7 linked regions of the Homo sapiens genome follow. Changing the gene in region 4 together with the main gene of any one other region gives a genetic interaction. Each region holds a gene or a part of one and is shown on either strand. Other genes may lie near its edges.

Evidence for each region.
Region 1: changes in B3GNT2 (region 4) and SEC24A together harm fitness more than expected from each alone (negative genetic interaction), as found in Homo sapiens cells (one large-scale study listed by BioGRID).
Region 2: changes in B3GNT2 (region 4) and EED together harm fitness less than expected from each alone (positive genetic interaction), as found in Homo sapiens cells (one large-scale study listed by BioGRID).
Region 3: changes in B3GNT2 (region 4) and SEC31A together harm fitness less than expected from each alone (positive genetic interaction), as found in Homo sapiens cells (one large-scale study listed by BioGRID).
Region 5: changes in B3GNT2 (region 4) and MAN1A1 together harm fitness less than expected from each alone (positive genetic interaction), as found in Homo sapiens cells (one large-scale study listed by BioGRID).
Region 6: changes in B3GNT2 (region 4) and ARL5A together harm fitness more than expected from each alone (negative genetic interaction), as found in Homo sapiens cells (one large-scale study listed by BioGRID).
Region 7: changes in B3GNT2 (region 4) and IGF2BP1 together harm fitness less than expected from each alone (positive genetic interaction), as found in Homo sapiens cells (one large-scale study listed by BioGRID).

The regions. Positions count from the first base shown.
Region 1 is NC_000005.10:134,655,285-134,658,784, reverse strand, and holds part of SEC24A (protein transport protein Sec24A), read right to left. Parts: intron 1-3,500. UniProt on the Homo sapiens protein: Component of the coat protein complex II (COPII) which promotes the formation of transport vesicles from the endoplasmic reticulum (ER).
Region 2 is NC_000011.10:86,261,753-86,265,252, forward strand, and holds part of EED (polycomb protein EED), read left to right. Parts: intron 1-2,419; coding exon 2,420-2,511; intron 2,512-3,500. UniProt on the Homo sapiens protein: Polycomb group (PcG) protein. Component of the PRC2/EED-EZH2 complex, which methylates 'Lys-9' and 'Lys-27' of histone H3, leading to transcriptional repression of the affected target gene.
Region 3 is NC_000004.12:82,874,154-82,877,653, reverse strand, and holds part of SEC31A (protein transport protein Sec31A), read left to right. Parts: intron 1-1,831; coding exon 1,832-1,927; intron 1,928-2,902; coding exon 2,903-3,043; intron 3,044-3,500. UniProt on the Homo sapiens protein: Component of the coat protein complex II (COPII) which promotes the formation of transport vesicles from the endoplasmic reticulum (ER).
Region 4 is NC_000002.12:62,220,115-62,222,672, reverse strand, and holds part of B3GNT2 (N-acetyllactosaminide beta-1,3-N-acetylglucosaminyltransferase 2), read right to left. Parts: intron 462-2,558; 5' UTR 453-461; coding exon 1-452. UniProt on the Homo sapiens protein: Beta-1,3-N-acetylglucosaminyltransferase involved in the synthesis of poly-N-acetyllactosamine. Catalyzes the initiation and elongation of poly-N-acetyllactosamine chains. Shows a marked preference for Gal(beta1-4)Glc(NAc)-based acceptors.
Region 5 is NC_000006.12:119,185,762-119,189,261, forward strand, and holds part of MAN1A1 (mannosyl-oligosaccharide 1,2-alpha-mannosidase IA), read right to left. Parts: intron 2,817-3,500; coding exon 2,644-2,816; intron 1-2,643. UniProt on the Homo sapiens protein: Involved in the maturation of Asn-linked oligosaccharides. Progressively trim alpha-1,2-linked mannose residues from Man(9)GlcNAc(2) to produce Man(5)GlcNAc(2).
Region 6 is NC_000002.12:151,821,922-151,825,421, forward strand, and holds part of ARL5A (ADP-ribosylation factor-like protein 5A), read right to left. Parts: intron 1-3,500. UniProt on the Homo sapiens protein: Lacks ADP-ribosylation enhancing activity.
Region 7 is NC_000017.11:49,035,385-49,038,884, forward strand, and holds part of IGF2BP1 (insulin-like growth factor 2 mRNA-binding protein 1), read left to right. Parts: intron 1-2,783; coding exon 2,784-3,065; intron 3,066-3,500. UniProt on the Homo sapiens protein: RNA-binding factor that recruits target transcripts to cytoplasmic protein-RNA complexes (mRNPs). This transcript 'caging' into mRNPs allows mRNA transport and transient storage.

The sequences.
Region 1 (3,500 bases), on a different chromosome or scaffold from region 4:
TATCCTTCCTATAAGTCGTCTGTTTTCCAGTAAATGTCCTCTCCCCCACCCCATTCTTCCCCTATTAAAATCGTGTAGAGGTTGGGCATGGTGGCTCATGCCTGTAATCCCATCACACTGGGAGGCCAAAGCAGAACTACTTGAGCTCAGGAGTAGGAGACCAGCCTGGGCAACACAGCGAGACTCCATTTCCACACAAAAAAATTAAAAATTAAAAAATTAGCCAGGAGTTGTGGCACATGCCTGTAGATCTAGCTTCTCAGGAGGCTGAGGCAAGAGGACTGCTTGAGCCCAGGAGTTTGACTTCAGTGAGCTATAATTAGGCATTCCACCCTGGGCTACAGAGTGAGAACGTGTCTCAAAAACAAAAAGGAAAAAGTGAGCATGATAGTCACCCAAGTAATGTTCCAACATATTCAAAATTAAAACAATCAAATCAACTGTGGTTTCAAACAAAATGTAGCATATTGTTTAATGTTTTAAAATTGAATTATATTGCTTTTGATTTTTTTTTGAGACAGAGTCTCGCTCTGTTGCCCAAGCTAAAGTGCAGTGGTGCGATCTCGGCTCACTGCAACCTCCGCCTCCTGGGTTCAGGCGATTCTCCTGCCTCATTCAGCCTCTCGAGTAGCTAGGATTACAGGTGTGCACCACCACGCTGGCTAATTTTGTATTTTTAGTAGAGACGGGATTTCACCATGTTGGCCAGGCTGTTCTTGAACTTCTGACCTCAAGTGATCTGGCCACCTCAGCCTCCCAAAGTGCTGGGATTACAGGCGTGAGCCACCATGCCCAGCCATATGTTGATATTTTTAATGTTTGGTTTTACAATAGTACAATAGCTATAACCCTATGAAGTTTACATCTAGTTTTGTGTTTGCATATACACATTTAATAAAAATAATTTTTGCCAGGCATGTTGGCTTGATCTTGTAATCCGAGCACTTTGAAAAGCCAAGGTGGGAGCACGGCTTGACCTCAGGAGTTCAAGAATAACCTGGGTAATATAGTGAGACCTCGTCTCTACAAAAAAATAAATAATTAGCCAGTTGTGGTGGCACGTGCCTATATTCCCAGCTACTTGGGAGGCTGAGGCGGGAGGATCACTTGAACCCAAGAGATCAAGCCTGCAGTGGGCTGTGATCATGCCCCTGCACTCTAGCCTGGGCAACAGAGTGAGAACCTGTGTCAGAAGTAAAATAAATAAATAAATAATTTAACATTGGGACAGCAGAGAAATATTTAGTATCTATACATTACTCAAATTTTTAAAAACTGATTTGAGGAAACAGCATTCATGGGATTTTATGTGGAATTGAATATGGGTGATGAAGAGAGGAAAAAATCTAGGATGACTCCTAGGTTTCTGACCTGAGCAACCTGGTGGATGGCCGTGTTTATTCATTTGAACAGAAAGAGAAAAGAATAGAAATGTAGGCCAGGCACGGTGGCTCATGCCTGCAATCCCAGCACTTTAGAAAGTCAAGGTGGGAGGATCACTTGAGGCCAGGAGTTTGAGACCAGCCTGGGCAATAGCAAGTCCCTATCTCTACAAAATATAAGTTTTGGTTGTGTGTGTGTGTGTGTGTGTGTGTGTGTGTGCGTTTTTCAGAAATGAGGTCTCGCTCTGCCACCCAGGCTGAAGTGTCACAGCTCACCGCAGCCTCGACCTCCCAAGCTCAAGCGATCCTCCCACCTCCCCTCTTGAGTAGCTGGGCCTACAGGCGTGCACCATTATGCCTGGCTAATTTTTAAATTTTTTTGTAGAGATGGGGTCTCCCTAAGTTGTCCAGGCTGGTCTCGAACTCCTGGGCTCAAGGGATCTTCTTGACTCGACCTCCCAAAGTACTAAGATTACAAGCATGAGCCACTCCACCCACTTGATCAAGGATCAAGGATTACTTGAGCCCAGGAGTTCAAGGCTGCAGTGAGCTATCATTGCATCATTGCATTCCGGCCAGGGCGACAGAATGAGAGCTGTCTTTAAAAAAAAAAAAAAAAAAAAAGTCGGATGCAGTGGCTCATGCCTGTAATCCCAACACTTTGGGAGGCCGAGGTGGGTGGATCACCTGAAGTCAGAAGTTCGAGACCAGCCTGACCAACACGGTGAAACCCCGTCTCTACTAAAATACAAAAATTAGCCGGGCATGGTGGCACACGCCTATAGTCCCAGCTACTCAGAGGCTGAGGCAGGAGAATTGCTTGAACCTGGGAGGCGGAGGTTGCAATGAGCGGATATCGTGCCACTGCACTCCAGCCTGGTTGACAGAGCAAGACTCTGTCTCAAAAAAACAAAGGTGGGGAATGGCAAAGGGAAGAGAGATCGAAGAGTTATTTTAAACACACTAATTTTCAGGTGCCACCAAGAAATCTAAGTGGAGATGTCCAGTATAAAGATATTTATCTGCGCTGGGCGCGGTGGCTCAGGCCTGTAATCCCAGCACTTTGGGAGGTCAAGGCGGGCAGATCATGAGGTCAGGAGAGCAACACCATCCTAAGACGGTGAAACCCCATCTCTTCTAAAAATACAAAAAATTTGCCGGGTGTGGTGGCACATGCCGGTGGTCCCAGCTACTCCGGAGGCTGAGAAAGGAGAATCGCTTGAACCCAGGAGGCAAAGGTTGCAGTGAGCCAAGATCGTGCCACCTCACTCCAGCCTGGGCAACAGAGCAAGACTCTGTCTTAAAAAAAAAAAAAAAAAGATATTTAGCTGCAGCCAAAGTGACAGATTTCACCTTAAGATATAATTATGGGAGTCACTGATCTATGCATAAGATTTAAAACCATGGGAATTAAAGACACCCAGGGAGTATATAAGAGTAAGAAAAATAGGTCACCTTGAAGAACACCAATATTTAAGGAGGAGAGAGAAAAAAACAATCAGAAATGGAAGAAATATTGAGAATACTGCTGTTGAGAAATAGCAACCAAAAAAAAGAAAGAAAACCATAACTACCCTTCTGGTGATATCCTAGAAACCAAAGAAAGCAATTGTTGTAAAAACAAAATAACAGCCAAAGGTATCAAATGCAGCTCGGAAAATGAGAACTGAAAAATATTTTTCTATTTAATAACCAGGAAGCCATTTGTGGCCTTATTTATTTATTTATTTATTTTGAGATGAATTCTTGCTCTGTCGCCCAGGCTGCAGTGCAATGTCATGATCTCGGCTCACTGCAACCTCCACCTCTCGGGTTCAAGTGATTCTCCTGCTGAGAATCACTCAGGAGGCTGAGGCCTCCTGAGTAGCTGGGATTACAGGCGCACGCCACCACACCCGGCTAATTTTTGTATTTTTAGTAGAGACAAGGTTTCACCATGTTGGCCAGGCTGGTCTTGAACTCCGGACCTTGTGATCCACCCGCCTTGACCTCCCAAAGTGCTGGGATTACAGGCATGAGCCACCACGCCCAGCCTTGTGGCCTTATTAAGGACAATTTTGGGATGTGTGGGTAAAGAAGCTAAATTAGAAAGTTAGAGGCAAGAATGAATGCAGATGA
Region 2 (3,500 bases), on a different chromosome or scaffold from region 4:
CTGAGCCATACTTGAGCCCCTTCAAGCTATGGGGTGACCAAAGAGCACTGCCTTGGAATAGGGGGAGCAAAGTGCTGAAGTGGCCCTGGACAGTGAATGTAGAGGTCCCATGGGTGCTACTCTGGAAACCTTGCCCTCAAGGTCTTAGCTATGTCTTGAAGATCTCTGAAATGCCTTTGTGGTCATTATCCCATTGTCTTGGTGAATAGAACCTGCCTTCTCTTCCCTATTAATCTCCTTAGCAATTAGTCACTTAGCTACATCCTTAATATTCTCTCTCAAACATGCTTTTTTATTTTATATATTTTTTGAAGAGACAAGGACTTGCTATGTTGCCCAGGCTGGTCTTGAACTTCTGGGCTCAAATGATCCTTCCACCTCAGCCTTCGAAAGTGTTGGGATTACAGGTGTGAGCCACCACACCCAGCCTGCTTTTTTTTTCTTTACATGGCCAGGCTGAGAGTTTATAAATGTTTCTGTTTTGCTTTCCTTTTTAATTACAAATTTCACCTTTAGATCATTTCTCATTTTATGATAAGCAGCCAGAAGAAGCCATGCATCACTGTGAATGCTTTGATGCTCAGATATTTCTTCTGCCAGGTATTGGATTCATTGCTCTTAACTTCTGCCTTCCACAAAGTCCTAGGGCATGGACACAGTCCTGCTAAGTTCTTCACAACTGTATTGCAAGGATGGCTTTTATTTATTTATTTAATTTATTTTTTTGAGGCAAGGTCTCATTCTTGTCACCCAGGCTGGAGTGCAGTGGCACAACCTCTGCTCCCTCACACCCTCTCCTTCCCTTTTGCTGTGAGACGATTCAGCATGAAGGCCCTCACCGGATGCCGGCACCATGCCAGTGATCCTTCCACTTCAGCCTCCCGAGTAGCTGGGACTACAGGCACATGCCACCACACCCCGCTAGTTTTTGTATTTTTTGTAGAGATGGAGTTTCACCATGTTGCCCAGGCTAGTCTCGAATTCCTGAGCTCAAGTGTCCACCCACCTCAGCCTCCCATGCTGCTGGAATTACAGGCATGAGCTACCACACCTGGCCTGGCTTTTTTTTTTTTTCTTTTAAAGACAGGGTTGGTCTCTGTCACCCAGGCAGTGCAGTGGCATGATCATAGCTCACTGCAGCCCAAAACTCCTAGGCTCAATTGATCCTCTTGCCTCAGTCCCCTAAGTAGCTAGAACTGCAGGTACACGCCACCACACCTGGCTAATTTATTTTCTGTAGGGATTGGGTCTCACTATGTTACCCCGGCTGGTCTTGAATTCCTGGCCTCAAGTGATCCTCCTGCCTCAATCTCAAAGTGCTGGGATTACAGGCATGAACCATCACACCCTGCCAACAGGGATAGCTCTTACTCCATTTTCCAATAACTTCTCATTTCTGTCTGAGACCTCACTGAATGAGACCAACCTCATTCTGTCTGAGACCAACATTGTTCTACCAACATTCTGATCACAACCACTTAAGTAATCCTTAAGAAGATAAAGGCTCTGCCTGAAGCTCTTGTCTTCTTTTCAGCCCTCACTGGAATTACCCTCAATGCTCCACTCACACCAATATAGGCTTTTTCTAGCCTGCTCCTCCAGATTCTTCCAGCCTCTCCTCGTTACCCAGTTCCAAAGTCATTTCCACATTTTCAGGTATTTATAGCAATAGTCCCGTTTCTGAGTACCAACATTCTGTCTGAGTCCATTTTGTGCTGCTATAACACAATACCACAGACTAGGTGACTGACTGATGGATTAATTAATTTCTTTTCTATTGCTCAGGCTTCACTAATTTTTAAATTTTTTGTTGAGACAGGGTCTTGCTATATTGCTAGGGCTAGTCTCAAACTCCTGGGCTTAAGCAGTCCTCCCATCTTGGCCTTCTGAAGTGCTGGGGTTACAAGCATGAGCCACCGTACCTGACTGGGTGATTTATAATGAACAAAAATTTATTTGGCTCCTGTTTCTGGAGACTGGGAAGTCCAAGAACATGGTGCCGGCATCTGGTGAGAGCCTTCATGCTGAATCGTCTCAGCAAAAGGGCAGGAGAGGGTGTGAGGGAGCAAGAGATTGAATTTATAGCCTCAGGCCCTTTTATAATCAGTATTAATCCATTTGTGAGGATGGAGCCCCCATGACCTAAATACCTCCCATTAGGCCCCAGCTCACACCACTATTGCATTGGGGATTGAGTTTCTAGCACATGCTTTTGGGGGGGCCTATTCAAACTATAGCACTTACCTAGCTAATTCTACATCTGATGTAAACATTTTAAGTTGCTATGTAATATGGATTCCATTTTTAGGCTTTACTGTGCATAACTTACATCTAGACTTTAGTAGTTTTTCTTTCACAAGATGTTGAAAGTTCACAGTAAATAAAAAACATTCGCCTAATTTTTGTATGTTTATACTAGATCATGCTTTACGATTATGGAATATCCAGACGGACACTCTGGTGGCAATATTTGGAGGCGTAGAAGGGCACAGAGATGAAGTTCTAAGTGCTGTAAGTTGGAAACTGCAGGGCAATGACTTTCAGGTTTACATAGCTGTGAACAGTCTCCATGGAACTGTTTCCTTATAAGAAAGTGTGTTTCATGTAGCCTGTCAGGCAGACATTCACTTACATTTGACATAGAAGATTTTAATCTCCAGATGAAGGAATAAAACAAGTAAAGACTATATTTATTTATTTATTTTTTAAATTACTTGCACTGTATACCAATCCCTGGAGTCTTATGAGAGCAGTATGATCTTGCTCCTTTCCTTTTAATCTAAAATCACTAAGTTAATGTTTGTTTTGCCATTTCGCAGTTATTAAAGAAAAAAATTAAACTATGTAGCCATTAAAGTGCTTTTCCATCTTTTGTTTGAAGTTGAAACATAACGTTTTTTGCTATTTGGAAGTGTTTTATTGTGCTCACACTGTTTTAGGTAACTTATTTCTAGCCATTCTCTTTGGGTGGCGTGGTATAATACAAGACCAGTTTAAAGATAAATACCACCTTTATATTGATGTATTGTAATCCATTGGTCCATTATACAAGTGTTTTTAGTTAGGTTTCAGATTTTAACATTATTTTTGCTTATGTTCCATATTTAGCTCATTTGATTCCTGTAGTAATTTCACATCTCTTAGGTTGTTTTCCATTAAACTATGTAAAGGGGCACCATATTTTACAGCATGTAACATTTTAGTTGAAGGTACTAAAATATTCCTATGTTGAAGTTTGGATTCCTTTGTGAGAATCATACCTTCCTTCGAATACCTTGTCAACTTGGATTTCCTAAAAGTTGCAGTAGCATTCTACGTCTGGCTTTATGTGTGTAAAAGCCAAGTGAACTGTTCTTTATTAATAACTCCAAATTAGTGGTATTGTCTCGAAGGATGTCTTGTTGCTGTTGACAGTGAGGTAATTAGAAGTACCACAACTGTGAATTCAATAAACATCAAGCCTAAAGTTCTTAGGCTCTTATAAAATGGTGCTCATAATT
Region 3 (3,500 bases), on a different chromosome or scaffold from region 4:
TTGCCTTCATAAACATTTCTGGTTGTTAATTATATAAATGCACAGCTTAATAACGATCTTAGCCTGAACAGGATGGTGAAACCCTGTCATTACAAAAAATGCAAACAATTAGCAGAACATGGTGGCACACGCCTGTAGTCTCAGCTACACGGGAGGCTGAGGTAGGTTGATGGCTTTAGCCTGGGAGGTCTACGCTGCAGTGAGCTATGATCACACCACTGCACTGCAACCTGGGTGACACATAGAGACCCTGTCTGGAAAAAAAAAAAAGACCTTGAGTTAATAGGATACTAGATTATAACAACCAAAAATGAGTATTAAGAAAATTTTAAATAGTTCCTTTTCTTATATTATAAATAGATACTTAGGGTATAGCAATACAGAAACCCAACTTGTTTATTTCTTTTTTGTTGTTGTTTTTTGTTTTTTGAAACAGCGTCTTGCTCCCTCTGCCAGGCTGGACTGCAGTGGCTCATGACTCACTGCAGTCTTGACCTCCTGGGCTCAAGCAAGTCTTCTGTCTCAGCCACCTGAGTAGCTGGGACTACAGGCATGAGCCACAACACCTGGCTAATTTTTGTAGAGACAGGGTTTTTTCGTGTTGGTCAAGCTGGTCCCAAACTCCTGGGCTCAAGTGGTCTGTCTGCCTCAGCCTCCCAAAGTGCTGTGACTACAGGCATGAGCCACTGTGCCCAGCCTTCGTTTCTATAGTTTGTGGTATCTGCTCTTTAGCTAACTCCTTTGTTAATTGTATTGAACAGCTGATGATTTTTAATAAAGTATTTTGTGTTATAGGTAGCTACTACCATAGAATGTCTCCCTTTTTTTAGTTATATGCCAACTGATAGAGAATAATTTGTAAGAGTAAATAGTAGTGGATGAAGGTCAGTATATGAAGCCCATTATCTTCCTGTACTTTATATTACAATTTCAGGTTCTTTTTGACCCTTAAGGTATGTACCAGAGAAAACCTAGAAATATTGCCACCTGGAATAAGATTGAGTGTATATGAACTAGAAATATGTGAAGAGTTATGACAAGAGATTTTACTAGTGCTGTATTGATTCAGCTCTGGAAGCTGGCTTTGAGGTATCCTGAGAAAGATGCCACAGTTTTAGGATTCAGCTTTTTCTGAAAGCAATAATTGATGACCTTTTTAATCTTATAATTAAATCTCCTTCCAGAGATGCAAAGATACAAACAGTAATCCTCACATGGTTGCATGACTGATTAAGAATTTATCCAGCCAGGTTTGGTGGCTCACGCCTGTAATCCCAGCACTTTGGGAGGCCGAGGCAGGTGGATCACCTGAGGTCAGGAGTTTGAGACCAGCCTGACCAACATGGAGAAACCCCGTCTCTACTAAAAATACAGAATTAGCCGGGAGTGGTGGTGCATGCCTGTAATCCTAGCTACTCGGGAGGCTGAGGCAGGAGAATCACTTGGACCCGGGAGGCGGAAGTTGTGGTGAGCTGAGATTGCACCATTGCACTCCAGCCTGGGCAACAAGAGCAAAACTCCATCTCAAAAAAAAAAAAAAAAAAAAGAATTTATCCATATAATTTTTAAAATAATATCTTGCATTAAAATTAATTTGTTCTCAGTAGACATCTTTTGTCTTTGTTAAGTAGAATTTTATGTTTTTCTAGAAAACTTTAAATTTTGAAAGAATTATGCATAATTTAGAAATTCATGCATATGTTTTTCACTTTTCAAATTAAATAGAAAAATTGTGTATGCTACATCTAATATCTTTCTAGCTCTGAACTGAGTTATTCTGAATTTTCTTAATTATTCATAAGTGCTATTTAGTTATGGTTTCTTCTTGCAGACTAATCTGGTAGCTTCTGGTGCTAATGAATCTGAAATCTACATATGGGATCTAAATAATTTTGCAACCCCAATGACACCAGGAGCCAAAACACAGGTATTTTTATATTGATTTTGATCATTGTAATCAAAAAAGCCAAAAGTAGTTCTCCTAAACCTACTTATTTCACTTTTAAGGCTTCTCACACAAAACATATATGTTTAAAATCATTGTTTAGATATTACTGATTTTTCTTCAGTAATTAATAAATATGTTTCTTCAAAGTATCAGTGAGTCCATCAAGAGTAAATATTTATTTAGTACCTACCACCTGGTAGACACTGGTCATTGTACTAGGCATACAGTAGTAAACAAAATGAACAAAAATCCTTAATAATTGTCTTAGATATAGTATAATTATTTTTGTTCTTTGTGTGATAGTTGCTCTGTGTTTTGGCAACAACCAACCTTCTTAAAACACACTTAGACAAGACCATGGAAGACAAGGTTTAAAATAAATACCTCAAGCCCTTTGCTTGTGTATTTCTATTAAGTTTGGTAACAACAGTCTTCTCCTGTTCTTCCCTGAGTTTCTTTATGTTGTATAGGCTATCCAACTTGAGTAGCCATTGTAACTGGCTCTAACATTTTGGCAATCTGAGAGGTAGCATAATGACAGCATATGCACTACCATTTATAAAGGTATTTTGCTAATGGTCTAGGCTGTAATTTTGCCCTGCCTAGTTTTCTGTCATAGTCACCAACATCTACTTTGTGGTCCATAATCTACCTTGCAGCAGTTGCAAAGTAAAGAAACAGTACTTGGTTTATAGCAGAAATTCAATAAAATTCTTGTTGAATGAGATATTATGAAACAAGATAATACACTTGAAGTGGTATGTACCTGCATTTTAAGTCATATAATTTTATGTGTTGAGAATGTAGAGATGTAGGACTATAAAGCAAATTTGTGGCATAAATGGATCAGATTTTTAAGTAATACACTTTTCAAAATGAAGGATCCAATTTTACAGTTAAATTTGATTATAATAGAGAAACAAGCAGTTTTTATTAACTGTTTCTTCCTTGTAGCCGCCAGAAGATATCAGCTGCATTGCATGGAACAGACAAGTTCAGCATATTTTAGCATCAGCCAGTCCCAGTGGCCGGGCCACTGTATGGGATCTTAGAAAAAATGAGCCAATCATCAAAGTCAGTGACCATAGTAACAGAGTAAGTATGTGATTGACTTGTGATGAACATGTTGTATTTCTGCTGTAGGTATTCCTATATTGTTTGTCAGAGTTGACAACAAATCAAATTTCTGTGAAGTCAAATCCTGTTTTTTTATTAATCAGTCATGTTAGAAGGAATGTTTTGTTTTTTTTCCTCTAAGGGAAAATCATAAAATTCCCAATAAATATGTTGGATATTATTAATGATGAAGAGAGATTGGTTAATCAAGGAACTTATTCCATGATATACTGGTGGTTTTGCTTTGCTAGCTGTTTTAAAACATTGCAGCAACTTTTTTTTTTTTTTTCTTGAGACGGAGTCTCGCTTTGTCGCCCAGGCTGGAGTACAGTGGCGTGATCTCGGCTCACTGCAACCTCTGCCTCCTGGGTTCAAGCACTTCTCCTGCCCCAGCCTTCCGAGTAGCTGAGATTACAGGCATGCACCATCAAGCCCG
Region 4 (2,558 bases):
AGGGACTTAATCGCCAGCAACAAGAAAGGTTTCTTTGCACACTTATCCGGCTGATCTATAAGCAGTGAATAATTGCGGCATCTCAAATACAGCAGAAAGTCTTTAAATCTGTCCGGCAAGTTGTTAAAACCCGTAACCACCGACGTGACCCTCAGGTCAGGTTCGCAGTAGTTCAGATGGCTTATATTGGAGAGCCTGCCCGCCTCCCCCGTCTGGTTGGTCAGCATGCTCAGGATGGGGTTGTACTGCCGGTTCAGCTTCTCTTGCTCTCGGTTCCAGTATGCCTCGGGAGGGGTAGATATCTTCCAGAACTTCTCTTTGGGTATTATTACTTCCCCTTTTCCATTTTTTTCTTGGCTACTGCTTTTGGAGACTTCCATAATAAAATAAATGAAGACATTTGCCATCATCAGGATACCCAACAACTTTATTCTTCGACGTCCAACACTCATTTCTCATATCTGGAATAAAGGGGTGGAGTATTGTATCAATTACTTATCAATTTGCATTTGCACATACAATTTATTTTACCTGTCTCCCCAGGAATAGTGGTTTACAGCAAAGACTCTACACTTGCACTGCCTAGGTTCAAATCTTGGCCCTTCCTTTCTAGCTTTGTGATCATGGGCAAGTGGGATAGTCCCTGTCTCAACTTCTCCATATATAAAATGGGAATCAAGCCCACTTCAAAGGATGGTTGTGAGTATATGATGTTATATGGAAAGCTTTTAAAATAGCGCGTGGCTCACAGCAAGCACTATGTAAGTGACTGTTTGAGACATGCTGAAGCTAGAAATACCTATTACTAAATAACCTCAGGAGAGTTCAACTTCCTTGCTTACAATGGCACATACAGTGCTTGGCAAACCGATTTGCCTAAATTATAACAAATACATTTTTATACTGTGTTTAGTATACACATACATACACAAAACTCTATTTACATGTGTGACGCATTGTGTGCAGTTCCATGTCATTCACTCTCAAGTTCTCTTCTATTTCATTTGAAAAACTTTGAGATTTTAAAATGTAGAAACAGGGACTGGTTACGTTGCTCAGGCTGGGCTCAAACTCCCAACCTAAGGTGATCCTCCCACCTCAGCCTCCCAAAGTGCTGGGATTATAGGCATGTCTGACCCTATCTCTCTCTCTTTTTTTTAATGTTAGTCCCAACCCTGAGTTATTTTCCAACCTACCATTTTACAGATAAGGAAACCAAAGCAGAGAGATTAAGACACTTGCCCAAGGTTGCAGGGCTAGGAAGCAGGAGACAGGAACCACAGAGCATCTCAGACAGAGAAAATGAAAGCAGACTCAGGACAGCTTTATCCCAATAGCCAAGAACTGGCAACAGCCCAATATCAACAGAACAGATGATCAAACTGTGGCATCTGCATACAATGGTATATCCCCTCGGCAATAGAAAGGGAAACTATTGTGGATGAAACATTACAACATTACATTGTGAATGAAGGCCAGACCCAAATTTTCATTTATATTAACTTCAAGAACAGGCAAAATGAATTTAGGTTCTAGAAATCTGAAAGTGATGGAGGTGGTGGGCTTAGAGAAGGATAGGAAGGAACTTCCTGGGGTACAGAAATGTACCATGTAGGTCTTGATCCTGATGAAGGCTCCACGGATGTATGCATATGTCAAACCTGAAGTGTATATTTAAGATCTCTATTGTTTGTAGCAAAAAGGGAAATACAAATGATATTTTAGTGAAATATCAAAAGATTTCAGGCTGTGGGCAATGGAAGAATAAAGAATGAGTAATGAGATGGTTTGCTGGGGATATCCAAGGTTCTAACACTATTGACATGGATGACCTATACAAGAATGAACATTTAAACCAAGGTGACATTAAAAGATAGCCCAAAAAAGTGGGATGGCAATGTTCTATAAAGAGCTGAAGATTTTCTTATCAGGTTAATTCAACTGGGAATTTATCCTTAGGTACTATTACTCATTCCCATTTTATACCTGAGGAGGTACACATTTAAAGAAGGGCAGACTGGAATACCAGCCAAGGCAAACAGATTCCAAGTCTGTACCATGCCAAAAGGTAGCTACACTTCTCCAATCCCTAAAAGAAAGCTTTGCAACTATTTTAATCTAGTATTTGCTTTTTGAAAGGAGAGGATTTTTAAGTTCACTGGATTCTAACAAACGGTAAAGTAGAAAAATATTTGTCATGCTGAGAATGCTGTAAAACTATTACATATTAGAGAGCCCAGATGAGATCAACAGGAATTCACAAGCTATTGTGTGTCTGTAAAGATCTGCCTAGTAGACCTTTATCTGGTTGCTTGTATTTACTACTGCTGAAACCACCTTTGCAAAGATTATGGACAGTAAGAAATCTAGCATGGCTGACTCCATCTTGCGTCTACCCTCACAGGCTAGCTGTCTCCACTCATTCCTGGGCATAGGCCAAGCTAACCACGGGAGAAATTTAGTTTACAGTTTAACTTCGAAGCAAAGATGGTAACAGTCCCTCCATAAAACTGATCCCTTCCTTGTTCAGGGGGCTGAGGCTAATGAAAGGTCACAAG
Region 5 (3,500 bases), on a different chromosome or scaffold from region 4:
GTAGAGACGGGGTTTCACCGTGTTAGCCAGGATGGTCTCGATCTCCTGACCATGATCATGATCCACCCACTTTGGCCTCCCAGTTTTTTTTTTTTTTTTTTTTTAAATATAAATCTACTAAAAGAACAAGTTGGACCATAAGCTGTGAAAAAATCACACTGCGAAGAGAGAAGAGAGGTTCACACTATTCAGCCCTAAAAGACCACAGCTGGAAACCAGGTCAGGAGAAGAAAATCAAGGGAAATGATGGATGAGGAAAGGAAGAGATGGCAGAACCTGCTGTCTTCGGATAATTGAGGAGCTGAAATGCAGAAGGGAGATTTTTTCCCTCTGGTACCCCCAGAGCACAGAACACTGTAAATTGTGGCTTCAAAATAAATAACTTTCTAACACCTTCAATATTACCAATTGGAATGAGTTACTTTATTAGGTGATACATTCCCCTTTGCTGGAAAGTCCTTGGGTTGATGAGGAACAGCTATCTTGCAAAGATATGGAGGGGAGTCTTGTCTTTAAGCGGAAAGCTGGATGAGGTGATTTTTAAGACCCCCTATGTTTCAGTTTGCGTTCCCTTAAAAATAAAGCATGAGACAAGGGTTGGACGCAGGATGCAGGAAGTCTATCAGGGAGGTGACATCAGGAAGTGGGCAAGTGGGAAAAGCAAAACAGGGACAGAAGAGCCAATGAATCATATTGTTCAACTGTGTGCAACGAGGCTCACTCCTGCTAGAAACCCTCTGAAGAACCATGTAGCATGCATTCCAGAATGATTCTTGAAGGAAAGAAGACTGGGACAGTTATCCACCAACTCCAAAACCTCCTTGGTTGACAGCCATTAACTCCCCAGCACTTCCCAGACCACAGCCAGCTGGCTAGGGAAAAGCTCTTCCACCTTCTTTTCCTGACATGGTTTCCAGCTGTGGTCTCAAGTATGCATCAGAACAGCCAAGTGCTGGAGGTGGGAGCTGCAAGCATATGCGGGGCTGCTGCTGAAACACAGGAGGCCACGGGGGTGGGCATAACACCAGGGGAAAAACGTGCGGCCATGCCTTCGAAGTCCCAGTTTTTCTGGTTTAAAAAATGCAAGACCCTACAGCACTCCTGGCTCACCACTATAGCTCAGGTTCTAGCAGAGGTTACTGGGGGCATCCCCAAAATTGAGACCTCAGTGTTGTGACACAGGGAAACGATTTCAGGTCATATATTATGTTAAAGAGTTGACAAGAAATAAAAATCATAACACATAAACCAACCTTATGATCTCATAAACAAGCAACCCCCTGAAGAACACAGCAAACCAAAGCATCCTGTCTACCTGGCAATACGAATTTGCTTACTTCCCATTTTTGATACCTTCTCGGCCATACATTTTGTACATTCTAACATCTATAAAATGGATGTCATAACTTAATTGGTAGTGTTATTTTTCTTAGTGGTATATAAAATAATGATGCTTCTTACTAATTATGGTGTTTTAGATTTGATGGAACACACCATTCCTGATATTTTCAACTTAAAATATTCAATTCATTTGCTGGCCAATTGAAGACCAAAACAATTCCCTATCACCAAAGTTTAGAAAAGCTTCAACTTTAACATTTTCTCCAGAGGAAAAAAACAGAAATGTAAAGAAATTACAATGACTACTGATTAAATGTAATAAAACTGCCCCCTCAAAGAGGCCTAGAGAATTGCTGTTATTTAAAATGACTGATGATTAATGATAAGACACATATTAAATGAAGAGGATAATAAGCAAGATTCACCGATGGCTTCCTAAGATATTAGTTAAATTTTACCAAAGGCAATATTCATTTTAGATTTCCTGAGAGAAGTCATTCCTCATGGACAGTTTTTAAAGATAGCTAACTTTCTAACAAAGAGTGCTAGAGAATGAGAGTGTAATTAAAGAATTTGCTTGTTCTTATCCCCTGAATTCCCTCCCACTCCTTGAGGAATAATAACTCTTACAATTAGACAGACATTGTTAGATGCATATCCTGCAGGTTGCCTCCTCAGGCATTCGGCACACAAAGCATTCACTAGATTGGTTTAGGAAGGAGGTATACTATCCTCAGCAGGAAGAGACCCAAGAGGTGACAGACAAAACAACACACTGGGCAGATGGAAAGCTTATAGATATTCCAAGAAACCTGAGACTGGTAAAGGAATATCCTTATACAAAGTAATTCTTCTATAAGTGCTTTCTAAAAGTTAGATCTAAGTAGCTATTTACTCTAAGTAAAAGCATATACTAGCATTTTAAAGCCCAAAGACAGAAAAAAACATGAAGTGGTTTATTGAAATAGAGGTGAATACCCCAAGCTGCCAACAACCCTTAGGTGGAATTAAGAGATCATCATTTTTGTATTAATGGGAACTTAATTTTAGACTATGCCTTTCTAGTTATCTCCTTCAATATCTAAGTCTATCAGTAGATATATCTATATCAATGTTATACAAAGCAAAGCTGAAGCCAGGGATATAAAATGACTTCAATGAAAATACACAGTCCTGGGTGGAAAAAATCCTGGTCGAAGCATTAAAAATTATAGAAAAGTTGATAAGCCTGATTTATGGGTATCACTGAACATTTTTTACTATGAAATTTATCTATAAGAAACATGCAAATTAAAACATCACCTCTACGGCTTCCCAGGCCCATTTCCTGTACTTTGGATCATGAGTCAGTCTCCACATATACATGTAAGTCTCCATAACTTCTGGCCGTAAGATGTAGTATTTTTCATTTTGTCTTGTAGCGATGGCTTCAACACCACCATCAAATCTGAAAGCTTCTGGTCCCAGTTTCATAACTAAAGGACATGGAATGAATGAATAAGGGTTATTTTCCTGGACAGTGCTTACAGTCAATAACTTAAATGAAACTAGAAAGTACAGTCATCCCTCAGTATCTATGAGGGACTGGTTCCAGGACCCTCCGAGGATAACAAAATCCATGGATCCTTGAGTCCCTTATATAAAATGGCAAAGTATTCGCATACAACCTGGGTACATCCTCCCATATACTTTAAATCACCTTGTTTACTTATACTACTTAATACAGTGTAAATGTTATGTAACTAGGTGTTATACTGTATTGTTTAGGGAATAAAGATAAGAACAAAAACTCTATAAATGTTCACTACAGACAGAACCATCCATTTTTTGGGAACATTTCTGATCTGCAGTTGTGGAACCCAGGGATACGAAGGTCTGACTGTACTTTAACAACACTGAAGAGAAATGTCAAAGTAGTCATTTTAAAAACGAGTTATAAACATCATGTAATATATAATATTCATATACTTAAACAATTTAGTCATTGAAAAGAGTCCATTTTAGAAAATATTAACAATTTATTTTTTTCATTTAACCCCCATTTACTGAGCACCCACCAGGCAGATACAAGGCACCATGAAATACCATTTGAGTTAGCCAGAAACTTAGTGGTTGACAATCCTAAGTAATTTCGTAACAGAAGGCCAGTTATTTACACT
Region 6 (3,500 bases), about 90 Mb from region 4:
TCACTGCAACCTCTGCCTCCCAGGTTCAAGGGATTCTCCTGCCTCAGCCTCCCGAGTAGCTGGAACTACAGGTGCGCACCACCACGCCCAGCTAATTTTTGTATTTTTAGTAGAGACAGGATTTCACCATATTGGCCAGGCTGGTCTTGAACTCCTGACCTCATGATCCACCTGCCTCGGCCTGCCAAAGTGCTGGGATTACAGGTGTGAACCACCTGCACGTGAATCATCAGAAGTTTACTGTGCCTGGCCTAATTTTTGTATTTTTAGTAGAGATAGGGGTTTTGCCATGTTGGCCAAGCTGGTCTTGAACTCCTGACCTCAGGTGATCCATCTGCCTTGGCCTCCCAAAGTGCTGGGATTACAGGCATGAGCCACTGCGTCCCGGCCACCAATGACCATTTTTAATAGCTTCCTAAATCTAAGACATAGCATGTGGGTCACAATGAGAACTATAAAATTAAGACCAAACTGTGCAATGGGCTCAAAGACAAACGTGTCATCTCAATAATAGGGTCAGATTAGTCACAAAGTTTTTAATAGTAGATCAATTTCCTCTGAACATCCTTACTCTCACCACCACAGCCTGTTCCTTTCATTAGCAAGATGGAAAAGCATCTATACAAAATGTAAATTTGTAGCCAAAAAGTGCTATAATGCACTTCGAAATAAAGACTTCATAGAATCCCAATATGCCTACTACAAGAATGTTATTGTGGACAAATGCAATAAAACTTTCAGCCATTCCAACTCTTTGATGCACAAGAATCATCAGAAGTTTACTGCTTAGTATGATTTTTCTTTTAGACTATGTCACAGCATTCCTGTATTTACTCAAATAAGCCACAACAACTGCACTGTTCTAATGCTTTGATGGAACTGTGAGTTACCAATTAGGCTTTAACATACCAATCAATACTTTACTGTTTTGTCATGAAAATTGCTTCTTGTTTCCCTTTTCCTTCATTTCCTTTTGACACAGGCAGTCTACCAGTTCCATTCATTGCCAGTTTTTAAAAGTTAATATATATTCCCCCAACTCATCAGTCAATAAATTAAGCATAATAATAATTGTTATTGTAGAGAATTACTATCTCTGTGAATCATACAACATCAGAAAACACAAAAACACCAGGGCAAATAAATGGAGAGTCCTCTTGATTCATCATTTTTACCTCATATCTGAACTATCACTAAGCCCTATTAATTCTATGTCTCTCAGAGCAAAAAATTCCATTTGTCATATTCACTATAGTTCTCTTAGTCCATAGGACAGCTCCTGGAATAAAGCATGAGCTTAATATTTTTCATGAATAAATAAATCAGATCTGGAAAATATAAAGGTTAGGAGAGAGATATCTGCTTAAGTCGTTTTGTATTAAAAGTTCAATTTTTAAAACTTAAAAGTCTTAACAATAAAAAGAAAGTTTGAAAATAAACTTGCTATTACAGTAATGGTAAATTAAGTTTCAGGGGAATAACCAAATTTTCTTTTGCACTATGAGGTTGCTGAAAAAAAAAAGCAATGATTACACATGGCAAAATTAGAGATCCAATCAGGAGGCAGAAATCACACAATAATTTGAACTTGGAAAGTTCAACATCAAAAAAATATTACAGGGGACTGGAGTAATGAGAGATTGGCTAAAAGATTATGGGAATGTCAAATTTAAGAAGCACTCACTATCCCTAGGGTTGAGATAAAGGTCCTCCCCCTCCCTCCAGACTTAAGATGCAGATCTCGTTGGAGGGCACAGATAGTGGCTCACTGAATGGCAGAGAAGTAGCTGTGGTGAGGTGCCAGTGGAACCTGCCCAAAAATCCTCCCTCTTCGGTGCTGAGGAAAACTGTTTATTGAGAGGTATTTCACTGGAGACCTTCCATTATGAAACCAACTAAGACGGGTACTAGGGGAAGCTGTTGGCTGCTGCTGACCACTATGCAGTACAAGAGCCAGGCCTTGGAGACGGTGTTCATGCTACAAGCAGAGCCCGTCAAGAAAGCACACTATAACTAAGTACAAACACCCTTTCCTCCTACAATGCCTCTCCAGTGCAGCCTACTGACAAAACTTAACATTTTGCCCAGTGGCAAAAGAAAAACGTTTAAAGGACCTAGCTCCACTTCCACAGAGCATGCAAAAAGGGTTTACAAATGGTCTCTGACTTGTGATGTTGTAAAAGCAACACACATTCAGTAGAAACCATACTTCGAGTACCCATGCAAAGATTCTGTTTTTCACTTTCAGTACAGTATTCAATAAATTACACGAGATATTCAACCTTTATTATAAAATAGGCTTTGGGTTAGATTTTGCCAACCTGTAAACTAACATAAATGTTCTGAGCACGTATAAAGCAAGCTAGGCTAAAGCCATGGTTTTCAGTAAGTCTGGCATATTAAACTCATTTTTTACTTACTGTATTTTCAATTATCTATCTATCACAAATTATCAACTATCACAAATTGAGGAGCATCTGTATTAGAAGCTAAGACACAGTCTACCCCTTGGCTACTCAGCTTCCATATGTACTCTTCTCTACACATTTAAACTCCCTAATAATAATAATAATAATAATAATAACAACAATAATAAGCCAGAAACAGAGGTGGCTTCCTCAGCATCAGGTTCCTGAAGCACAGGCAGCTTCTCCTGCACCCATTCATACTTATAATTCCTTTTCTAGCAACCAACCAAGAGAGCAATACAAGGCTATTAATGAGGAAATTCCACAACTTCTTTTATAGTTCACATCAGTCAGTTCTTTTTATCTGAGTCCTTCTTATACAAAGTCCTTCTTACACGAAGTTGTGTGCAAATGTGCGTGCGTGCATGTGTGTGTAGAACTAACTCTGGCACTAGATAATCTTGTTAAAATCCAGGTGTGTGTGCGTAGGAGAAATAACTCCGGCACTACGTAATCGTGGTTAAAATCCAGGTCTATCACTTTTACCTATAGTGCTTAAAGCAAGTTACCTGTTTCCGTACCCCTGTAAAATAAGGGGAATAATATCTACCTTGTAGGGTTGTTGTAAAGAGTAAATCAACTAAGTGAATATTAAATCAAACAACCTGTGTGAACCTTGCACAAGTGTTAACCACTATTATTTTACTTGTAGAGACAAAGTGAGTTAATTTCCTGTCTCCCAACACTACATGAAAGCTCCATAAAGGCAGTGGAATTTGTCTGTTTTGTTCCCTTATCCCACCATGTAGAACACTTCCTGGACTAAATAGGTGTTAAAATATTTGTTTATTGAGAACAAGTAAACCACTGATCACAAGCTCTTCTATAAAAAAAAGTTACTAATGGCAACTTTTCGAAGTTCTAAAGACAACTTAGAGATTAGCAACTGAAAAAGTTAATGGGGGGAGGAGGAGGGAGGGAAAAATGATGTCAATCTCTTCTTTAAGAGATTCCTTCAGGGTTTTAACTTGCCTGGCTCTGGCATATACCAGTTGCATGGCCTGGGGAAAAAAAATCATTCCACTTAAGCCT
Region 7 (3,500 bases), on a different chromosome or scaffold from region 4:
GTCTAGACTAGGTTGTAAGTTTCCTGCTTCATATAGCTAGTGAGCAATAGAACTAAGATTGGAATACTGGTGTCCTAATTCAGTTATCTTTGCCCTGGGAGCCTGGGCAGATGCGGATGCGAGGTGCGCTGGGAGGTGGCAGCGGTCTGGGGCAGTGGCCTGCGGTGGGTAGGCTGGGACCTCGCAGTCTCCCCACACACATGTGGGGCCCCACCACATGGCGCCTCCCTGCGGGCGTGCACCTGCAGCGGTGGGGGTGGCTGGGGCACCTGGGAACGGGGATGCCTTGCCCTCCGAGGTCTCCCCTGGGCGGCCGCCCATGCCATTTTCCGGGCTGCTCGCCTTCTAGAAGTTCCTGCAGGAAGCTGGTGATGTGGCCTCCCTGACCCGGGCCCGCCCCCCACCACTTTGCTGGAGGGGTAGTCAGATTCCAGCCGGGATACGTAGCAGCAGCTTGGTGGCAGGCGATAGGAAAATGGGCAAAAGCCCCAACTGGCTGGAAGGCAACCCCGGGGGCCGGACCTCCTTGTGGGAGGGCCCGGGACTGCACTAGGCGGGAGTGGAGGCCGCGGCTCCAGGCTGGTCTCGGCCTGGTAATTTGACACGGCCAGCCGGTCACTGTTTAAGGCACTGTGTACCATTTTACTAACTTAATCCTCACGGTGACCGCATTTCCCAGCTGGGCCAACTGGTGCGGGGTTGACTGGAAGCGACCGGGGTTGACTGGAAGCGACCGGCATAGCGCTTGGCAAGTATATAGCAGGTAGTAAAATGGCTGTAATTTTGAAAGTTAGCTTTGTGAAGTGTTGGGGCTGCGGCATCTGCTGGTGGTGTGTGGTATTACAGCCCCGTGCTGGCGGACCCCATTGGGTTGGGGAGCGTTGCGAGATTGTGGCCCCAGAGCCAAGTGGGCAGTTAGGGGTCTCTGGAGACTCTGGAAGGAGAGGTAGCACAAAAGACAGCGGAGGTGTTCGCTTCGGCAGCACATATACTAAAATTGGAACGGTACAGAGATTAGCATGGCCCCTGCGCGAAGATGGCACGCAAATTTGTGAAGCGTTCCATCAAAAAAATAAAAAAATAAAAAATAATAAAAAAAAATGGGGGACTGCGGAGGAGCTAAAATTTCGAGACTGCATGTTTGTTTTTTTTTGTGCACCAGCAGCTCATTAGAAGAATTCCTCAATTGCTGCTTCAACACCCGCCACGATGGCGTTCAACCTGGCAGATTAATTTAACAACTCTCTGATGGGTTGCCCTGAAATTTGAAAAACAGTGCCTTGGGCTGGGCGCGATGGCTCACACCTGTAATCCCAGCATTTTGGGAGACCGAGGCGGGCGAATCACCTGAGGTCGGGAGTTGGAGACCAGCCTGACCAACATGGAGAAACCCCATCTCTACTAAAAATACAAAATTAGCGGGGCATGGTGGCGCATGCCTGTAATCCCAGCTACTCGGGAGGCTGAGGCTTGAACCCGGGAGGCGGAGGTTGCACTGAGCCGAGATCACGCCATTGCACTGCAGCCTGGGCAATGAGCAAAACTCTGTCTCAAGAAAAAAACAAAACAAAACAAAAAACAGTGGCTTAAGCAAAGGCCACAAGAAAGAATTGAGATCAAAGAGGAGTGTGTGCCATGGCTATGGAGGGGTTTCAGTTGTGAATTATGAAATGTCATGTAAACCATTTCAAGCATTTCAAGGAGTTTGAATTTTATATAAAAAACAATGGGAAGACGCTGCAAGTTTTGAAGCAGCATCTCAGACATGTTGAAAAAGATGTTTGGATCCCTAAAATAATGAGAGAAAAGGCCAGAGAGAGGTGTTCTGAACAACTTCAAGATTTTACCAAATGTTGCAAGAACTCTGGAACCCTTACGGTAGGAAAATGCTGGAAAGAAAATTCTCTATTGAAAGGACGTCTAACTGCTCACTATAATGATCCAGCCTTTTATGAAGAATGCAAAATGGAATACCTGAAGGAAGGAAGAATTCAGAAAAACTGGAATTTCTACAAAGAGAAGGCTACAGAAACTTCCCATAAGCCTGTAGGCAAATATTCAAATGATATTCAGGAACTCTAATATTCATGGAAGTCATTTATAGTATAAATTTCCTTAAATAATGGACTCAAGAATGTGTGTTTGCTTTATCCTAATTATGGAAATATTAATTTTTATCTGAAATAAAGATCTTTTATTTCAAAAACGAAAATAAACCCCACACTTCATTAGGGCAGGATTAACATTTGAATTCTACATGTATACATTTCAATCTCCTTTGACCTTGGTTTCATCATCTCTAAAGTTAGGAGTATGTAGTAGTTAGCAGTTGGTTTCCTCACCCTGTAGTAGGGATTCCTCAATCCGGGAAGTGTATGTGTTAGCTTTGTGGAGCCTCTTCAGGTCTGTGGTAGGCTTTCCAGTTGGCATGGGAGTACTTTGAGATCTATGGCTTGCTCTTCCTTTTTAGGCTAGCAGAACCCTATACTTTCTATTGGACTGGAAGCCCATTTCTCTGATGGTTCCAGTGGAAAGCCTTTGTGAACAATAAATCCCAACTAAGTGTTAGGGAACACTGTATTTATTTACTTTTCCTTTGAAGTCTTTGATGCCATTTAGACTGGAAAGTTGTGAAAAATGGAGGTGGAGGTAGTGGGCAGGTGACTATCTCCTTTTCTTTAGTGTGTTCCAAGCTGTAACTTACTAGAGTGCTTTGGCCAAGAGAGCATCTGGTATGATTGGCATGGATTGGAATGACCTGTAGACTCTCACTCTGTCCCCAGAGCCATCATGAAGCTGAATGGCCACCAGTTGGAGAACCATGCCCTGAAGGTCTCCTACATCCCCGATGAGCAGATAGCACAGGGACCTGAGAATGGGCGCCGAGGGGGCTTTGGCTCTCGGGGTCAGCCCCGCCAGGGCTCACCTGTGGCAGCGGGGGCCCCAGCCAAGCAGCAGCAAGTGGACATCCCCCTTCGGCTCCTGGTGCCCACCCAGTATGTGGGTGCCATTATTGGCAAGGAGGGGGCCACCATCCGCAACATCACAAAACAGACCCAGTCCAAGTGAGTCTTGGCTCTTGGGGAATGGAGGTTGGGTGCTAGGGAACAGTGGTTGGTACCTAAAGAGGCCTCCTGGAAGCATGCTGGAGACATCAACATTTACCTTTTAGGAAATGTTGCCTGGAGCATTCAGGGGTCCCTGCTTCCAATACCAGCCTCCTGGGAAAGGGAGGGCAGATAGGGAGGGAGAATGGGTCTGGGGTGCTAGGCCACACACTCGTATTAGCAAGAGAGATTCTATAATTTCTCATGTGAAGTTTCATAAAAAAAGTCTCCAAGCAAACCTCATTTTGATGAGTCAGCAACTCAGTGCTCTGTGATTTCATGATCACTTAGTGTGGTAACAGGGCTGGCCAACCTGTCCAAAATTAGGACCTTCATAATTGTGTCCCATCTCCCATTCTGCCACTGCCACCTTCTTTCTTTAATATTTTTTTT